Linked DNA regions of Homo sapiens. The protein of the gene in region 3 interacts with the protein of the main gene of each other region in a pairwise test. Each region holds a gene or a part of one and is shown on either strand. Other genes may lie near its edges. The genes, in order: PLB1, STAM and LSAMP.

Region 1 (7,114 bases), on a different chromosome or scaffold from region 3:
AAGGGTGCTCAGTTAACTGACAGTAACAAAAATGCAACTTGATGGAAATGATGATTGACAATAAAGTCCTAGAAATCTACAAGGCACAGATGACATCCCAGGAAAGTAGAACTTCTGAGCCTCTAGAGAAAACCCCATACCTGTGCTCAGTGTCCAAAGCAGACATTTGGAGACAAGTGTGTGAGGTGAAGTGAGGGTTGGGGATGGGGATGGAGGCATTGGGATGTAGAGTCTAACACCAGAGATTCGGGGATGGCTATGCCACCAACTAGGTGTGTGACCCAAGCAGGTTCTCCCTGATCTTGCATCAATAATTTGAAGGACTCAGGCCACCAAAAGTTCTCAAATATCCCTTTCTACTCTTATTTAGAAAGACTGTATTTCTAGAAGGCTTGGGAAAACTTCCTGCAGGAAGGGAAGGAAAGCCAACCTTCAGGAAGAACCCTGGGCTCTTGCAAAACAAATGTTACCTAGCTTGTTTTAGTAATGAAAAGGTATCCTTTTCTCACTCAATGAGTTCACCCAGCTCCCACCGTTGGTTTTGCATTGACAGGCCTGTCATGGGTACGTTACCAAGGCAACAAGTTTTTCCCACAGGCATGACAATCTTCTGGGAACTTCTGACCCATTCGAGGAAAATAAAATTCTAGCAGAAATGGTAATTTATTAGATACAATGATTTCTTGCCAACTTGCTTTTGCCGACTGCAGTTGAGTTAATGATATTTCAGTTTTATAAGCCAAAACATTCAAAGCAGGAATCTGTTTTCATATGTATTGCTTGTTGAGTCCATTTAAAAGTTTAAATAAAAGTCTAATTTTGGTTCTTCTCTCGAGCTCTATTATACTGTAAGGTAGCGAAAGGTGCTGGCCCTGGATCCAAGCTCAGGACTGACCTCAGCTTCCTGTACTAATTAGCTGGATGATTTTGGATAAGTTACCTAGCTTCTCAGTTTTCTCATCTGTAAAATGGGAAAAATAGCACAGACCATCTTAAAGGAAGGCTGTTATACATGAACTGTGCTTATCATAGAGCCTGGTTTTTCTAGGGAGCCTCACACCATGAATTTAGTTTGAAGTGATCCTCAAATGTGATAACATCCCCAGTGCCCAATAGAATGAACACTTATATCTTCTCTGAAGACATTCACCTTCATCCTAGGCCTCAAAGAATCTCATAAGTACATTTTCAAGGAGTCTGAGCACCATGCAATAAAAGATAACCAGGTATAGTACATAAAGAAATTAGGTACATATAAGCAAGAATCAGCAGGAGAACAAAAGAAACAGATCACAAAGACTTTGGATACTAAAATCATCAAAATTGTAAAATTTCAAAATGAATTTTTGTTGTTGTTGTTGTTGTTTTGTTTTTTTGAGACTGAGTCTCGCTCTGTTGCCCAGGCTGGAATGTAGTGGCCCAATCTCGGCTCACTGCAACCTCCACCTCCCAGGTTCAAGTAATTCTCCTGCCTCAACCTCCTGAGTATCGGGACTACAGGCACACACCACCATACCCAGCTAATTTTTGTATTTTCAGTAGAGATGGGGTTTCACCATGTTGGCCAGGCTGGTCTCGAACTCCTGACCTCAAGTGATCTGCCTGCCTCAGCCTCCCAAAGTGCTGGGATAACAGACGTGAGCCACTGCGCCTGGCCCTTACAATGACTATGTTTTTTAAAATAAGACAAACTTGAAGTTTTTATGGGAATCCAAAGTTATTTAATTACCAATTTGGTAAGAAACCAAATGTAAGTTAAATTTGAAAAATAAAATCACCAATTTTCAAAATCTTCAACGATCAGGTTTAACAGAAAATTAGACGCAACTGAAGGAGACTGAATAAGCTAGAAGATGTATCATAATAAATTACTTAGAATGCAGTGTAGAAAGACAAGAAGATGGTAAAGTTGGTAGAGAGGTGAAGAGACATGGTACATGGAGTGAGCAGGCCAAACGTTGTGCTGGCATTCCAGAAGGAAAAGGCAGAAATAATCAAGTAGAGGCAACATTTCAAGAGATACTGGTTGAGAATTTTTCAAAACTGATGGAAGTAATCAAGCCACAGATTCAGGATGTGCTAAAAAGGCCAAGCAAGATAAATTTACATAAATGAATGAACTGGAAAACAAACATACAATATAGACGATGGTATATTTTTCCAAAGATGGCCACAGCATTTCGTCTCATCCTGTATGCCCTTTTGCAGTGTGACTTTTGCCATTCTTCCCATCAAGAGGCAACGTCTATTTCCTTCACCTTGAATCCAGGCTACTACAGAAACTTGCATTGACTCATAGAAGCAGCAGAAATGACTTTGGGGACCGGACATTAGAAGGCTTTGTGGCTTCTATTTGTGCTCTTTTGGGACCTTGGGTCCCCATGTAAAGAAGTCCAGACTGCGCATACAGAAACAAAGGCCAAGGAGGGGAACACGAAGACACCCAGGTCCCAGTACCAAGTCCCCAGACATCTCATTTGGGACCCACCAAGTCAATCCCAGATGATACTATGTGGAACAGGGATGAGATGTTTCTGCTGAAGTCTTCCCAAGCTGCAGGTTCACAGAACTGTGAGTAAATGAAGTGGTTGCTACTGTAAGTCACTGAGATTTGGGGGTAGTTTGCTATGCCTCAATAGAGAACGGTGACATAGAAGATCAATAAAAGCCAGATATGGTGGCTCATGCCTGTAATCCCAACACTTTGAGAGGCTGTTGGATGATAGCTTGAGCCTAGGAGTTCAAGACCAGCCTGGGAAAGATAGTGAGACTCCCTCCCTACAAATTTTTTTTTTTTAATTAACAGGTGTGGTAGTATGCACCTGTGGTCCCAGCTACTTGGGAGCCTGGAGAGAGAGCAACTCTTGAGGCCCAGAGGTCGAGGCAGCAGTGAGCTGTGATCAGGCCACTGCACTCCAACCTGGACAGCAGAGTTAGACCTTTCTCAAAAAATAAAAAATAAAAATAAAAAATTGGTTTGAAAAAAATAATAAAGTAGACAAACCTCTGGTAAGATAAATCATAAATAATCAGTACCAGAAACAAAAAGGACATGACTACAGAAGCTACAGGTATTGAAGGGATAACAGAAAACCATACACAAATTTTATGCCAAACCACTTGCAAATTTACTCGAAATGGACACATTCCTAGAAAAAAAAACTTTCCAAAGTGGATTTAAGAAAAATAAAATATGACTAATTCTATAAGTGCTAAAGAAATTGAACCAGTAGTCAGAAATCTACCAAAAAATAATATTCCAGGCCCAGATGGCTTCATTGGCAAGTTCTACCAAACATTAAAAGGAAAAAAAATCCATTATTATTACAAACTATTCCAGAAAACAGAAAAATAGGAACACTCCCAAATTCATTTTATGAGACTGTAAAACATTGGTACCCAAATCCAGCAAGGGCAGAGAGAAAAAAGAAACTTATAACTCACTCTCATTCATGGGCATATAAGAAAAATAACCTGAAACAATTGTTAGCAAACTAAGCCTAGCAATATAAGGAAAGAGATACACCATGATCAACTTGATTTTACGCCAGCAATGGGTATACAATCCCAATGGATCATTCAGTATTAGCAAGTCTATTAATATAACTCAACATAATAGATCTAAGGGTAAATAATCATATGATTATTTCTATACATGCTGAAAAGGCCTTTAACAAAATTTAATATGAATTTCTGATGAATTAAAACTCAAGGATGTAGAAATTTATGGTTATTTCCTTAATATGAACACACACATATACATATGTTATGTATGTATGTATGATTCCCAAAGGCTATCATCTAACTGAATAGGAAAATATTCATTTCCCATTGCTTTTTGTAACCTTGAGACCACATGGTCCTTAAAAATATGAAAACATAATCAAATTACATTGTAATAAGATAAACTAAAATGTTTCTTACCTATGACATTTGCAAAAATTCTAAGTCTTGACTGCATGCTTTGTTGTCAATATAGCTTTATTGTCAAGCTATGAAAAAATAAGCAATTTCATATATATTGCTGGTAGGAATGCAAATTGGTACAATCCTTATGGAAGGAAATTTGGTAATACCTAACAAATCTATATGTGTGTTCACCCTCTGACCCAGAAATCCCAGTTCCAGGAATTTATCCTAAGTTAGATGTATAGCCTAGCATAAGCTGAACTTGAAAAAGATACATGCATGTGACTGTTCATGACAGTAGTATTTGTAATAGCAAAATATTGGAAACAACCTAATGGCCATGTTGGGAGGCTGGTGGTATATATGGTACATACTGGAATATTCTGCAGTTGGAAAAAAATAAAGATCTCTGAACTGATGTAGTATAATTTTCAGGACATATAATTAAGTAAAAAAATCAAAATGCAAAAAACATGTATAGTAGGTTATCTTGTGCAAGAATAAAGGAAAATAAGAATATATTTTCTCAAAAAGAAAAAGGATATTAAACTAATAAAATTGGTTACCTACAGGAATGACAGAAATGGGATAGAAAGGGTAGGGGAAGGGGATGGGACCTCTCTGAGTACATCTTTTCATATAGCTTCGACTTTTGAACAATGTTAATGTTTTATATATTGAAAAGACTTAGTAAAAAGCAAGAACAGAAGAAACACAAAATTAAATACAGACACACTTAACTGTATGCCACTAGGTTATATAATTACACAGAAAGAACAAAAAAAAATTCAAGTGATTCTGAACACAATATTTTGATTATACACCCTGAGTGGGATATATTCTAAAGGACGGAAGTATGGCAAAGGAATTTTGAACTTCATTTGTTGTTGGTGGTGTTGTCATAGCAATTCCAGTACTGTGTTGTATGTATTGTAGGATTCAGTAAGTGAGTAAATTCATTGATGTGTCTGTAACCCAGATTTGCACTGTGGGTGAAGGACAATACAAATATGGAATGAAAGAAGGAGATGAAAAAGTGTAATTCTACCTAAATTAAAGATAACTTTATAAATTTATTGGATGTTTTTAAAAAAGAAAACTACATTTCTTAGTTTTGTCACTGAAAGGGCCTAGACAATAACACTTCAGCATCAACAAACATTCCTAGCACCTGGACCTTGGTTTCTAAATAACACTCCCCTACCAATGGAAGCCTTGAAGAAACAGCTGATTCCAGGTTTGGGATAGAGGAAATACAAGGTTAGCAGGGAAAATCTTGTACCATGAAGTTTAAAAGTGCTTAAAAATTGATAGGGCCACAGAAGTTACCTTGAAGAGGCTCTCACTGGCCAAATCTGTAATAACTTTGGCATCAAAATGAAAAATAACAGGCCTGGATTACAACACACAGATTAATAAGAGTCCATAAGTGAATTTCTTTTCTTTTCTTTTCTTTTTTTTTGGAGACGGGGTCTCACTATATTGCCCGAGCTGGTCTCCAACTCCTGGGTTCAAGCTATCCTCCCTGCTTAGCCCCCCATAGATGAATTTCATATGAAAAAGATAAGACAAAAAGGAGGGGGGAGTTCAGTTAAATATTTATTTAAGTGGGGGAAAAAAGGGAATCTCTTTTTTATGGAGGAAACCCAACTGACAATAGCAGAAGGAAGAAGGAATGACAGAAAAATCACCATCTTCCAATCACCATGGTAAAAATTTAGGCAAGAAGTATCAATGGATGCTAAAAATCACTGGGAAAAAGGGTAATCACACAGTCTCACAGTATCTCCCTATGGATAATTTATAAACCACATGGGGCAGGTACCTTCACAAGGGAAAAAAGTCAGGCAGCCACACCTTCACCAAGTTATCAAATTTGGCATCACCAACTAGGGGATTCATGAACATCACTGTTTGTTGTTCATACACAAAAACCAGCTGAAGATGTTCACTGACACAAAAGAAACAAACAAAAAGCCGAGAGAACTATTCTTGATGAAAAGAGATTAAAGAGACAAGGCAAATAAATGCAACGTGTGGTCTCTGATAAATCTAATAAGCAATGACTGAAGAAATGAACAAAATAATAAAAAGTCAATTTATTTAATTCACAACATTAGCAGATAAAAGGAGTAAGTCACACAATCATCTCAATAAATACGGAAAAAGCATTAGATGAATTTCAACATCCACTTCTCATTTTAAAAAATCTCTTAGCAAATTTGGAATAAAGGTTTCTTAATCTCATAGAGCTTATCTACAAAAAAAGCCATTAGCAAACAGCACAATTACTGATGAGAAATTAAACATTTTCCTTTTTTTTTGAGACAGAGTCTGGCTCTGTCACTCAGGCTGGAGTACGGTGGTGCAATCTCGGCTTACTACAACCTCCACCTCCCAGGTTCAAGCAATTCTCCTGCCTCAACCTCCCGAACAGCTGGGATTACAGGCAACCGCCATCACGTCTGGCTAATTTTTGTATTTTTGTAGAGATAGGGTTTCACCATGTTGGTGAGGCTGGTCTCAAACTCCTGACCTCAGGTGATGCACCCACCTCGGCCTCCCAAAGTGCTAGGATTACAGGTGTGAGCCACCACGTCCAGCTTAACATTTTCCTTTTGAACTTGGGAATAATATAAGAATACCATCTTTGGTATCATCACCTCTTTAAAAAAAAAAAAAAAACTGTTGTGCAGGCACCAGCCGGCACAGTAAGATAAGAAAAAGAAATAAAGGCACACAGATTGAAGAGGAAGTAACAACACCGTCATTATTGGCAGGATTATGTGTGTTAGGTTGGTGCAAAAGTGAGTGCTATTTTGCCATTGCTTTGTTACAAAGCAATAGAGAACTAATCCAGACTTGAGCCTGGATTCTCTATTTTATTTTTTAAAAGGTCAGTTGGAACAACGCTATGTGCATTAGCTCTTCTGGTGGGAGCATTAAACAGCATTAAAAGTAATGGCAAAAACAGCAATCACTTTTGCACCAACCTAATAGAAAACCCAAAAGAATATATAAATTATTAAAATTTTTAAGTTTAGTTGAGTTCAAAATCAACACAAAATTCACTTTATTTCTATATATCAATAACAAACATTTCAAAATAAAAATTTTAAAACCCACTTGCCACACAACAAAAATATCTAAACCTAGGAATAAATTTAACAAAATATGTCCATGCCTGCAACAGAGAAAACTTTGA
Region 2 (7,114 bases), on a different chromosome or scaffold from region 3:
CTTCTTTGACACTAAATAATTTTAAATATTGTATAGTATTCTGTAAGCAAACAAAACGGAAACCATCTGTGTGTTAATGGACTCTCACTTTCATTTGACCTTTTTTTGTGTGTGGTAGGCAAACTTTCTTGACATGTGCTTTTGTTTTTTAAGACTGCTTAAAATGAAAATTGTGAATAATTTACATTGAAAATTGGTATCCATTTCAAAAAAACAGAATTATTTTGACTTGGGAAGAGTTTTTTTTTTTTTTAGCATACTTATGTCACTTTCACTCTCTGATGATTAATTCGTTTCTCAAGCTATTTTCCTTTTACACAGAACATAGTTTTTAAATTTTAAATAATTACTTTGCTTAGGATTAGTAGTCTTTATTTGCCCTGCGTACCTATATATAGTAGCATAACCATGTAAAAACCATGCATGGAGAAAGGTTTGTAATTATTTTAGTAGTGGTCATGGTAAAGTAGATCTGTTTGGATTTTTTAAAAAACATAAATACATATATACTTATATATCGTATAGATGTGTGTATGTAATAATGGTTTCATTCATTCCATTGGTCTGTACAACAAAAGATTCTGAAATAGATCTGTGTCACTGGTTTGAGGTACCTTCCAGCCTCTCCCAAATAGGAAAATAGAGAAACCACTAGTCTTCCTCCTTCCTTTTATGACCAACTGAAACACTGGTAGAAAGAAAATGTGGAATAAACCCTAAGAGTCCCACTTAGAAGAGCAGCTGTGATACAGCTGAGCTCTGCCTTACTGAAACAGCTGCTGTATTCACCATGGGCAAGTAGGAATGACAAGTTGTTAGTCATAAGCAATGCCATCTTGAGATGGATAGTACACTTGTTGGCATGGCTAAGCTAAAGCTGCTCCGAAACAAAGCAAAATCCTCTGGCATGACATAAGAGGTGGAAGAACTCACGCATTGTAAGTTTAAATGTGGCTTGATTTCTTCTCGCTTAAGAGAATCTCTGTTAGCAGTTGGTTGGTTGGTTTATTTATTTATTTAAACAGGGTCTTGCACTGTTGTCCAGACTGAAGTGCAGTGGCGAGATCATAGCTCACTGCAGCCTTGACCTCCTGGGCTCAAGTGATTCTCCCACCTCAGCCTCCTGAGCAGTTTCAAAAATATATAGGAAGTACTTTCAAGGCTCTGACTTCATGCAGTACTAGAGAGAATAAATACATGGGACACTGACAACATAAAAGCAAAATTGGAGTCTCCATAACTATGAATTTCAAAAGTTTGTCTAGTTGATAATAAAGTGAAAACATAAAGTTGCCTAAAGGTTGGTAGCTTTTTATATTAACTACTTAATTCCTGTAGGATAAAATGGACCAGTTGCTACAGATGCTGCAAAGTACAGACCCCAGTGATGATCAGCCAGACCTACCAGAGCTGCTTCATCTTGAAGGTAAAACTTTTCTATTTACCTTGCAAATAAAGAGTAGTTAGAGGTTAATAACTGGTGTCCTGTTAAAGAATGGGTTTTGAGGATAATATTAAAAATGGAACATTTCTCACTTCTCCTTGACCCAGGCTCACTCTCATATGCAGTTGAAACCTTGGGTAGAATTTGAATTCTTATAATTTTCTATCCAAACGAAGTGTTCTGTTCAACATTTTAGAACCTGGTAAAATGAAAAATGGCACTTTAAGATTTTCAGATTAATATTTTAGATTAAGTTGTCACCATTATACTTTAAGAAAATCAATTTTGGGTTCTGTAGACTAAGGTTAAAGAATGTATATTTTTATTACTCCAAATTAAATCTTTTATTCCTTAAATTATACAAATATCTATCAAAGGTTCACATTTTTTTTTCTTGTACTTTCTTATATTTCTTCACATCTTGTCATTTTAGCAATGTGTCACCAGATGGGACCTCTCATTGATGAAAAGCTGGAAGATATTGATAGGTAAAAGAACATGGGTGCATTTATGTTGTGTACCTTCTTTCCTGAAGCTATCACTGTACTGCAAAGTGGGCTATAACTGCCTTTTAAAAAAAAAATATTGTGGAGGAACCAACTCTCATTCACATATCTTGTGCTAGATGTGGAGAATTAGACTCATTTGTCCTTTTTTTTAAAGTGAGGATTTGATCGACCTTTGCAATATAGTCAAAAGGACCAGCGTAGATAGGTCGTTTTAAAAACAAGGGCTAGCTATGTAATTCTCTTTGCTGAAGTGGCATTACCAGAGCTCACAAATGACCCATATGTTAGTAACTAGGGAAACCAAGATATTTCTGGTACAGTCAGGTACGATAAGACGGAGTTCCCTTAGCACAGCACGTAAACCTTAAACAGTTTGGGTTGCTTCAGGGCTAAAATGCAGGATATTTTTGTTATAAGTGAAATTTTTAATAATGTCTACTAGTACTACTTTTTGCCATTTTTGATATTTTGATGTATCATTATTTAGAGCATTATATCATTTTAGTAACAGCTATGCTTCAAATTATTGTGTCATGTTTCAGAAAACATTCAGAACTCTCAGAACTTAATGTGAAAGTGATGGAGGCCCTTTCCTTATATACCAAGTTAATGAACGAAGATCCGATGTATTCCATGTATGCAAAGTTACAGAATCAGCCATATTATATGCAGTCATCTGGTGTTTCTGGTTCTCAGGTAAGCTTTTAGAAGCCCATGTTGTTTTAAATTCTCAAATGCACAGTGAGGTGTGGTAGCTCATGCCTGTAATCTCAGCAATTTGGGAGGCCAAGGCAAGAGGATTGCTTGAGACCAGGAGTTTAAGACCAGCCTGGGTAACATAGTGAGACTCTGTCTCTACCAAAAAAAAAAAAAAAAATTAGCCAGGCTGGGGCATGTTCCTTGGTCCCTGCTCTCGAAAAGCTGAGGTGGGAGGATAGCTTGAGCCCAGAAGGTCGAGGCTGCAGTGAGCCGTGTTCACACCACTGCAGTCTAGCCTGGGCAACAGCGACACCCTGTCTCTAAAATAAATAAATAAATAAATAAATTCTCAAATGCATTTGAGATTATTTGGAATAGCTGTTTGAAACTTTCTAAAACTAATGTTTAAAATTAAAATAAAGTTTAACGGAATTTTTTTACTTGGCAGTTACAGCATATAATATACTAATTATGCTAATAGTTTTTTGTTGTTGTTGTTGTTTAAAGGAAATAGCTTTTATACAGGGTTATGCAGCAGAATCAGCCATCACACTTTTGAAAAAAATTACAGATATATCCATCCCACTCCAGACCTATTGAATCAGAATCCTCAGGGTTGAGGCCCTTTTTTTTTTTTTTTTTTTTTTTTTTTGAGGCGGAGTCTCACTCCGTGGCCCAGGCTGGAGTGCAGTGCTGCAATCTCAGCTCACTGCAAGCTCCGCCTTCCGGGTTCTCGCCATTCTCCTGCCTCAGCCTCCTGAGTAGCTGGGACTACAGGCGCCCGTCACCACGCCAGGCTAATTTTTTTGTATTTTTAGTAGAGACGGGGTTTCGCCGTGTTAGCCAGGTTGGCCTTGATCTCCTGACCTCGTGATCCACCCGCCTCGGCCTCCCAAAGTGCTGGGATTCCAGGTGTGAGCCATCGCGCCCGGCCGAGGCCCATATTTTTAAAGCTTCGTATGTAATTATTTACTTAAGAACCTTAGTTCTTCATCAGGTTGTGTACACTCAATATGTATAGCCTTTTGCAGGTCAGACATATCTCAATAAAGTAGTTTCGTAAAAAACACAAAATGCTTTTAGAGCTAAGAAAACTCTCTTAAATATCTAATGAACTTCTAGTTATCCTTAAAAGGAAAACTTAAATGCAGTGAAAAAAAAATGAGGTAAAAACCTGTTTTTATTATTACAAACCAACAAAATATATTTCCATAATTTAAAAACTGCTTTAATCTGGAATTTTCCCTGCTTTACATGAGAATGCATGCAATGCAGTGTAGAGCCGTTTGCTTTCTTTTCACCCCAAGCAACTATTTCAAGGACCCCCTTTTCACAAACTCATCACGGTGAGGTGAGGTTATAGGGAATAACTAGCCAGATACTGGCCGGGTGCGGTGGCTCATACCTGTAATCCCAGCACGTTGGGAGGCCGAGGCGGGTGGATCACGAGGTCAGGAGATGGAGACCATCCTGGCTAACATGGTGAAACCCTGTCTCTGCTCAAAATACAAAAAATTTAGCCTGGCGTGGTGGTGGGTGCCTATAGTCCCAGCTACTTGGGAGGCTGAGGCAGGAGAATGGCATGAACCCGGGAGGCGGAGGTTGCAGTGAGCCGAGATCGTGCCATTGCACTCCAGCCTGGGCGACAGAGCAAGACTCCACCTCAAAAAATAATAATAATAATAATAATAAATAAAAACAAAACTAGCCAGATACTCCATTTTTTCCATGTAAAGTGGGCACGGACTGTGTTCAGATTAACGTTTAGCAGAATGAGGGGCCAGCACCCTGTAGATGAACAGCTAGGCCCAAGAAACTTGGGGCTAGAGGGCACCTGCTTTAGAGTCTTGATCACCAGTTTGAGACAAGGAAGCAAAAAACCTTCATGTTCAATTTTCGAAGAATGACAAAATAAAGTTAGGAGGACTGGTATAGCTGTGTTTATAATGAAGACCCTTTGGATCCCTGTGTGGGTCTGTCGTTTAACAGAAGTGCTAAATGGAAGGATCTAATGAATACTGCAGAAAATTAGGACATTATGTGTTTTAGACTTTGGGTAGTTAAGACTTCAATCTCTTTAGATTAAAAAAATGCATTTTGAAATACAGAAGTAGACAAATCCAGCCTGTTGCCTGTTTTTTTTTTTTTTAATAAACTTTTTTTTGAGACGGAGTCTTGCTTTGTCGCCCAGGCTGGAGTGCAGTGGCGCGATCTCAGCTCGCTGCCAGCTCCGCCTCCTGGGTTCAGGCCATTCTCCTGCCTCAGCCTCCCGAGTAGCTGGGACTGCAGGCGCCCGCCACCACGCCTGGCTAATTTTTTGTATTTTTAGTAGAGACGGGGTTTCACTGTGTTAGCCAGGATGGTCTCGATCTCCTGACCTCGTGATCTGCCTGCCTCGGCCTCCCAAAGTGCTGGGATTACAGGCATGAGCCACCATGCCTGGCGGCTTTAAATAAACTTTTATCAGAACACAGCCACTCTGATTTACTGACAGAGCCGAGTAGTTGTGTCAGAGACTACATGGTCCACAAAACTTAAAATATTTACGTCAGGCCCTTTACAAAAAAGTTTGCTGACCCCTGCTTTAGAAAGTTAGCTTGCTCTATTGTTCAATAAACTGCAGTTTAGGAAATGTGACTTGTATCCATTGCAGTCTATGGCTACAAAACAATGAGTTCAAATACACTTTCTAAATATCCTTTGGGATTCCTTAAAAAATACCAACATGCAGAATATTAAAATATATTTAATGTAAAGGGAGATTAGTATAAAGTTTCAGGATAAGTTTCTTTAATGCTTCAGTATGGAGATAACATGAGTTTAGCATATGTTTAACTAAAAATGAAAACCATCAACAGCCTATTTCATTGAAAAGCGTTTTTCAAAATGCCCGTTGACAGAAATAACTTTGAAAAAAGGATTCCAGAGTGGTGATTTTTCTTGTTTTTGTAACTGAATACCTCTACAGAGAAAGTTCAGTATGCTTATTAAAATTTTAGAATTGAATATGATTTCTCTTTAACCATCGCAGGTGTATGCAGGGCCTCCTCCAAGTGGTGCCTACCTGGTTGCAGGGAACGCGCAGATGAGCCACCTCCAGAGCTACAGTCTTCCCCCGGAGCAGCTGTCTTCTCTCAGCCAGGCAGTGGTCCCACCATCCGCAAACCCAGCCCTTCCTAGTCAGCAGACTCAGGCCGCTTACCCAAAGTAATTTTACTGTTGATTCTTGTTTGGAGTTAGTGCTGTTACAGCTGTTTAAGTGCCCCCAGTTATCTATAACTATAAAATCTGGCTAATAAATATCTGTGGTCAGCGTCATGCGGCCGCCCCATTTGTGCTAATGAGTGGTGGAGCCTCTGTGGTATTCCAGTACCAGCCAGCAAGCTGGTCCTCTGCTCCCGACTCGCTCAACTCATGTAATCTGGTTTCAGCCTTATATTTTTAATACTACTCTAACCATAAGTTTTTATTGTTGTTTTTATTTGCATCTATGATATTTGATAATGTCTTTAATGAAATTTATGTTTAGTGACTATAATTTGTCATTTTTCCACACATTTTGTATAAAATCTAAATTCCGTTATTTTAAAATATATAGTTCTGAGCTGTCTCTTTAAGACAAATATTTTCTTATTTTTGCCCTGTTTTGGAATTTAGTTTATATTATATCAAGGTACCCCATTTGAAACAAGAAGATAATAAGAAGGTAAGCACCCTTGTTTCTCAGGAGGCAGATGGCTGAATATGTGATGACAGAGGCCCATTTACTTTGCCATTTACTTACAGTGCTGTCTGTCATGTAGTTAAATGATTATTGTGTGTTTTTTCTGCTTTAATGGGACTCTGAGCTGAAATCTTTTCCTTGAAGCAAATAAAGGATAGGCTTTTAAGAGTTTACCAACGTGTATTCTAGAAGTTACGACATTCTAGCTGGCAACAGAAGTTTCTAGGTAGCACAGGCACAACTTCTAGAAACCTTTCCAGCAGTGTTAGGATTGCCCAGGAATGCTCCTGCACTGCCCTCTCTTGCACTACTCATCCTCAAAGAGTTACGTGTTAGAGATGCTTGGGGATTTTCAAGCATTATTCGGTTGTCAGATCTAGTATCCCGAAGTGACCTTAAGGGGGATGATGGCAAGGCCCACATGTCAGAAAACAGGGCATTCCCTAGTGGGTTCTGTATCTTAGAAAAAAGTGTTAAGTGTAGCTTGCACTCTTGCAGGATTTTTTTTTAAGTTGAAATCTGGTGGAAATGAATACCCTTCTGGAAAATAAACAGCTGTTCTTAGAGTAGCATGTTGCTTTACAACTAGATACAAAGGGGCTAGAAGGTAGGAATTGTTGAGAAGACACTAGGGTTCCTGACTTAATAGGACCCTGCAGCTATTTTAGTATTAGCCGGAACTGCCACTTTTCCCCTGCTAGTCCTCTGTTTGACTATGTCACATGCTGCTCTACCTTC
Region 3 (7,114 bases):
CAAGAATACATGAACACAGCCCTAATGTTTGTTAGTGCTTAGATCTTTCCTGATAGATACATTGAAACTGCTGGTGGTTGGGCTTCACTTGCAATAAAATTGTGCAGCTGATCAGCTTTGTTCTCATTCTGCAATTATGGCGAAAGAAACCCAATTGAGCAACAGTTTGGGGGTATGTGAGTGCCATTTAAGGTTTTTATCCTGTAAAACGATGACTCAGATGTGCCCTTAGATCCCCCAATCTAGAAGCAAATTGTCCCCAATTACTTTGCAGATCTTTGTCACTGGATTTCATCACCAGTAACTTGTCATTAAGTAGAGATACAAACTACATAGAAACCTGAACAGCTGAAAAAATAAAAAGTCCTCTGGAAAATTTTATTTTTTCAGAAGAACTTTGCTATCACAAAAAAGATAATTAGTGCTAATCTTCAGGGTGAGGACAGATAAACCCAAACTTTCTTAAACTCAGCAAAGCATCTGGTACCTAACAGGGTGGAAAAGTGTACTTCATATGGCCCTAGGCATTCTGTGTGTTCTGGTATCCCTGATTTACATTGTTCCAACAGCTGTGGCTTTTGCCGTGTGTTTTCACACTCAGGGCTAGGTGAAAACATTCTCACCAATGTTACTGGCTCTCAGTAACAGGAGTACACTCTCTATATTGTTTTGGGTCCTCTCATTTTAAGTGTCTTTTTAGACAGAAAATCGATACTTAAGTCCAATAATATCTTTGGGAATATTTCTTTTCAGGAAGGATTCTGCAAATATTTTGTACATTATTATTCTGCAACTCCCACCTCTTTCTTACCACCCTTCTATCCCACACTTTCCTTACCTTGTACGATCAAGTAAACTTGGGAGGTCTTGGGCTCATGCTGTGTCTGAACTGAGCAAGTGTAGGAACCCTCATCATAGACATCCACCTTCTGGATTCGGAGGCTGTATTCCAGAGAATGGCGTTTCTCCAGCTCAACCCGTGGGTCCAGAGACCACTTGTCATGTCCAGCAAAAATGATGCCAGAACGGTTCAACCAGGCCACCTTTGAGTTCTTGTCTTCTACAACGCACCTGACAGAGCAGAGTAACAATATTAGTGCCTTAACAACAACTATTTCTGCGTTTCTTCTCTAGGTGATCAGACTCAACAAGTCTAAACAAGGAAAATAATTATATGCAGAATGAATTATTGCCATGCCATTCTTGGAGTCCTTAGAATTTTCACTATTTCATTTAAGATCTAATTACCATCCAGTGGATGGATGTCATTATATTAGACTCAGTTCAGCAATAAACAATCTGAGTATGAGTAATGAAGGCAAAGTTAAATTAGTATTGACTTCCCATTATCTTCTTCTTGTTTAGGAAAAGGCCACTCACTCAGAACTCCGTCTGTTTAAGTAATTTTGAGAATTATACAATTGATATCATAGCACTTTTACTCCATCTTGAACTGTGTTTACTCTTTTATAAGTATTTCCTATAGTATTGTGTAATGATAGATTAAAGTTATACTCCACCATTATAGGAATTAGACTAGACTTCTGAGTTTACTTCTAATCTTTACAAGTTTGGGATGCCACTTCCAGGAGTAAAAATTGTGTGAGCAGATCCAAGCATAAGGGGATAGGTGTTATGACAAGGAAATCAAAGCAAACATCATCTGGCATAAGTTTGGTTCCAGCTGCTGAAGGCAGAAGCTTGTTTGGTGGCAAGTTAGGTTGCTACCAGCATTTCTAGTCACACTAAATGCAGGCAATCTTTAACAAAGATGAAGAAGCCAATTTTGTAGTTTATAGACCAATAGATCAAAAAGGGTAAAGGAATAACGCTTAATTGAATTACTGCTTTAAAAAACTTAAAAGGGTCTCTTTCTGAAATTTGAAAGGGGCAAAGAACATGCATTAGTGAAGGAGGGGTAAATACTTTTTGGTGAGTATGGTTTTCTCCTTCAGTTCCAGCAAGAGTCTTGCAATGGAAAAATCTAGCAGAAAACAAAAACAAAAAAACCTTCTGTCTGCATCCCTGTGGCAAGATTTATGTCTGCCCCATAGGGAGATGTCCCAAACCCTGTTCACAGCTGCAAAGCCAGCTGCTCAACACTCTGGAGCAGGAGGGAATGAACAGAAAGAGCCACGAGCACCACAGCAGGACTATTAAGACACCCTGTTCCCCTGTATTTTCTAAGCCAAGTAAAATCCAGTTTTTATCTCAGGTCAAAACAACTAAACATAGACAGAAAATTGATGCATAACCCATAGGCTGTCCCACATGGAATATAAAGGCCAACTGTGTCTCTTACAAGAAAGATAACAGCTAAGTCTTTTTAAATACTCCATTTATGGTATAATACAAAGACCTCCTTATCCTATTAATTTTAAACGAATTGTATATGTTATTTAGAGGGAGATTTTTTTTTTTTTTTTTGAGACAGATCTTGTTCGGTCACCAAGACTGGGGAGCAGTGGCCTGATCATAGCTCACTGCAGCCTCAAACTACTGAGCTCAAGCAATCCTCCTGCCTCAGCCTCCTAAGTAGCTAGGATGATAGGTGCATGCCACCAGGACTAGCTAATTTAAAAAAAAAATTAGAGATGGGGTCTTGCTGTGTTGTCCAGGCTAGCCTCAAGTGATCTTCCCAACTTGGCCTCCCTAAGCACTGGGATTATAGTCATGAGCCACCATGCCTGACCCTAGAGTAAGAATTTGACTTAATAAGTTGGGTGCCAAGATACACAGGTCTTACTTTTCTTCTTTACCTATTTGTTTTCATAAACATAACTAGATTTAGGTATCATTTAACATCTCCATTTCCCAGTATGTGCTTCTCTGCCATGCATATATTATTGAGTATAATTTATGTGTTTAATAATTTAGAGGCCTTTTATCATGAGCACCAAGCTAACTTCATGAATGCTTGCTGCCTCATTCCAGACTCAGTTTTACTTTTGCTGTTCTCCTCTCTTGTGGCATCATTTCTCTGTTCTTGGTGATGTTTGCCGCATCTCTGAATTTAAAATCATTGATGAATTAATTAATAGGATGTTTGGTGTCTTACTCTAGACCATTATGAAATTGTTGAATGTAGATTTACCATGTTTTTTCTATTCTAGTAAGAAGGATAGAAATTTACCTGTGTAAATGTGTTTTAAATCTTCTATCATTTTTCCCTGTGCATGTTTCTCACCTGCACAGCGTAACACAAGAATGGTCAGATTTGCTACATTATAGATGTATTCTGAATGCCTCTTAGCACCAAATATGGCTCCAATCTCTTCACTTTAAAAGAAAAAATACCACGTAATATAGCTTACCTAAATATGGCCTGTGAATCCAATAAAAACAGCAAATTTTTACCTTATTCATTTGGATACCACCAATAACTAATCTAGGATAAAACAGGCATTTGATAAATGCCTGTCCTGTGAACTAACTGGGTCACACATGCAGATACAGGACATTTGGTAACCTATATTCCACGTCCCCATCCCAAGTCCTATAGCACCCACAAATAAATTGGACAGATTTCCTTAACAATATAAGGTAAAGTTTATAAGTCGGGTCTTTATGGTCCTTTGACATTTTAGCAAATTTCATTCATGGAAAAGTTAAAGTCATACGGATCATTATTCCAAATTATTCTTTGAGGGTGTTCAGCTCTATCTTACCTAAAGAAGTAATTGACCATTTCAGCAAAATTGCCAGATGCATAAAAGTGCATCTAATGAAACAATGTATTATGTGGAAATTTTGTTATGACAATTTACATAGCACCTTGTTTTTGATCTGGGTTTTATCCGTATTTATTTTTAAAATTCGTCTTTTACTGACAAACAAGTGAATAGTATATTAGAATACACATATACTTTTTTTTGTTTTGTTTTGTTTTTGAGATGGAGTCTCGCTCCGTCGCCCAGGCTAGAGTGCAGTGGTGCAATCTCAGCTCACTGCAAGCTCTGCCTCCCAGGTTCACGCCATTCTCCTGCCTCTGCCTCCCGAGTAGCTGGCACTACAGGCGCCTGCCACCACGCCCGCCTAATTTTTTGTATTTTTAGCAGAGACGGGGTTTCAGCGTGTTAGCCAGGATGGTCTCAATCTCCTGACCTCGTGATCCGCCCACCTCGGTCTCCCAAAGTGCTGGGATTACAGGCGTGAGCCACCGTGCCCGGCCTAGAATACACATACTTTTTCCTAACTCAGATGGTTAGCCAAACTCCAAGCACCAGAACACAATACAGTATAGTGTTTTTAAAAAGGAAACCATTTCAAGGAGAAATTTGTTTAAAATAAATATATCTCAATGGAAAAAAAATAAATAAATAAAAATAAAATAAAAAGGAAACCACTTCTCCAGATCTTTCAGGGTTCCTTTTTATGTACTCAGTAGTTGCAAAATAAATCTATTAGCTCTATAAACTGGAAAATAATCCTTCTACAATGTGACTAAAACTTTCTTAATAAAAAATGAGTAAAGGAATAATGCAATTTCAGAACTAAATATTTTCTTAATTTTAGAATCTTAATTTAAGGTGGCACCTATTTTTTTTAATCATAAAAAGTACACATGAAAAAAAATGGTAGGACCAGGCACGGTGGCGCATGCCTGTAATCCCAGCTCTTTGGGAGGCTGGAGGCAGGAAAATCACTTGAACTCAGGAGTTCAAGGCTACAGTGAGCTATGATCACATCACTGCACTCCAGCCTGGCCAGAGTGAGACCTTGTCTAAAAAAAAAAAAAAAGAAAGAGAAAGAAAAGAAAATATAGTAAACCAGAATCAGTAGTTTCAATTTGTAGAGGTCTACGTTTATTAAGAGATAATAACTAGTCATACAGTGTACTGACAGACCACCTGGCTATCTGGAAATAAGAAATGCTGATATAAATACAGACCCAGGTTCCCAGCATTCACTGAATCACCAATAAGCATCATGGGCTTGCATCTCTGAGGTCTGCTGGCTCAACTGTGCATTAGGCAGGCTTGTGGAGTAAATGAGAATTCTCGGGCCATGCCATTATAATATGATAATAATGAATTATCACCTACCTAGAATGTTGCTGCAATTTAGTTCTAAACTTTATACTTAATGATTTTGTTTCGGGGGACCTGCCCCGGAAAATCACGTAGGTTCTTTTCTATTTTCCTAAGCGTCGGCTGGCTTGAGAAATAAAAGGACAGAGTACAAAAGAGAGAAATTTTAAAGCTGGGTGTCCAGGGGAGACATCACACGTTGGTAGGATCCGTGATGCCCCACAAGCCACAAAAACCAGCAAGTTTTTATTAGGGATTTTCAAAAGGGGAGGGAATGTGTGAATAGGTGTGGGTGACAGACATCAAGTACTTAACAGAGTAATAGAATATCATAAGGCAAGTGGAGGCAGGGCGAGATCACAGGACCACAGGACCGATGTGAAATTAAAATTGCTAATGAAGTTTCGGGCACCATTGTCATTGATAACATCTTATCAGGAGACGGGGTTTTGAGATCAACCGTCTGACCAAAATTTATTAGGTGGGAATTTCCTCTTCCTAATAAGCCTGGGAGCGCTATGGGAGACTGGAGACTATCTCACCTCTGCAATCTCGACCATAAGAGACAGGTACGCCCCTGGGGGGCCAGTTCAGAGACCTACCCCCAGGTGCGCATTCTCTTTCTCAGGGACGTTCCATGCTGAGAAAAAGAATTCAGTGATATTTCTCCCATTTGCTTTTGAAAGAAGAGAAATATGGCTCTGTTCTGCCCGGCTCACCGGCGGCCAGAGTTTAAGGTTATCTCTCATATTCCCTGAACAATTGCTGTTATCCTGTTCTTTTTTCAAGGTGCCCACATTTCATATTGCTCAAACACACATGCTGTACAATTTGTGCAGTTAATGCAATTATTACAGGGTCCTGAGGTGACATACATCCTTCTCGGCTGACAGGACTAAGAGACTAAAGTAAAGACAGGCATAGGAAATCACAAGGGTATTGATTGGGGAAGTGAGAAGTGTCCATGAACTCTTCGCAATTTATGTTTAGAGATTGCAGTAAAGACAGGCATAAGAAATTACAAAAGTATTAATTTGGGGAACTAATAAATGTCCATAAAATCTTCACAATCCACGTTCTTCTGTCATGGCTTCAGCCGGTCCCTCCGTTTGGGGTCCCTGACTTCCCGCAACAATTTTATCTCTAGAATCAACCTGGGCTAAAGCAGGAAGATAAAAAGATGTATTTCAAAAACCTGTTAGTGTTATGTGTTGTTTTAATAGAATGTTGTCTTGAGGAACACATGATGTTGCAAATAATTCCCAGGTTTAGAAAGAACCGGACCCTAATGACAATGGGTGTTAGTGCCACGAGGAGAGGATCAGAGAATATCCTTCCGCTTTGGGTGGGTTTTATGGAAGGCAGCTGAGGACATGGACGTATGCTATAAAGTGCCACCTCTTCAGAAAATCTTCTCTCGTCAGTGTAACCTTCTTAAAACTTCCTTTTTATGACCTTATCATACTCCACATTGCATTAGAGTTATTTGCACTCATCTTTTCTCATAAGCTTATTAAGACAGTGACCTTCTTGTAATTCACCTCTGGAGCCCTCACTGAGCCTAAATACCATGTGCATAAATACCATGTGCATAGTAGATACTTGCTGAAATGTGGAATAAACAAGCTGAATTTAATTTAACAAATTGCATTAGGTCAATTATAAAATATTCATTAATTATCTAATAGGTACAGTAAAGATGGATAACTATTTTAATATTTCTTAAGAAATAATTAAAGTTATTAGGTATAAAGGGAAATTTAAAGAGAATTATTGAGTGTGGTATTAAAATGAAAGTAAAGGAGAGAAAAAATGTGTTCCTGTGTCCACTATGAAGAAATATCATCTCTAGGAACTAAATGATCTATATTGCATGTGAAAAACTGTGAAAAAAAAGTATAACATCCTAAATAAGTGATTAGGAGGTTGCTCACGTTAATCATGAACCCTCAAATATTAGATGGGTTACCTACTGGAACTGCAAATCTATGATTTTTAAAAAATCATCTCTTAAAAAAATTAGGAAAGGTAAGCACACAAATTTTTATCTTCCCTGTTTAGTATATTTGATTCCATAAAACTGT

What was found.
Region 1: the proteins of LSAMP (region 3) and PLB1 interact in binary tests that used the Homo sapiens proteins (3 or more experiments, as listed by UniProt).
Region 2: the proteins of LSAMP (region 3) and STAM interact in binary tests that used the Homo sapiens proteins (3 or more experiments, as listed by UniProt).

What each region holds. Positions count from the first base shown.
Region 1 is NC_000002.12:28,499,004-28,506,117, reverse strand, and holds part of PLB1 (phospholipase B1, membrane-associated isoform 1 precursor), read right to left. Parts: intron 1-7,114. UniProt on the Homo sapiens protein: Calcium-independent membrane-associated phospholipase that catalyzes complete diacylation of phospholipids by hydrolyzing both sn-1 and sn-2 fatty acyl chains attached to the glycerol backbone (phospholipase B activity).
Region 2 is NC_000010.11:17,703,093-17,710,206, forward strand, and holds part of STAM (signal transducing adapter molecule 1), read left to right. Parts: intron 1-1,338; coding exon 1,339-1,426; intron 1,427-1,877; coding exon 1,878-1,932; intron 1,933-2,495; coding exon 2,496-2,649; intron 2,650-5,683; coding exon 5,684-5,859; intron 5,860-7,114. UniProt on the Homo sapiens protein: Involved in intracellular signal transduction mediated by cytokines and growth factors. Upon IL-2 and GM-CSL stimulation, it plays a role in signaling leading to DNA synthesis and MYC induction. May also play a role in T-cell development.
Region 3 is NC_000003.12:116,085,486-116,092,599, forward strand, and holds part of LSAMP (limbic system-associated membrane protein isoform 1 preproprotein), read right to left. Parts: intron 1,072-7,114; coding exon 839-1,071; intron 1-838.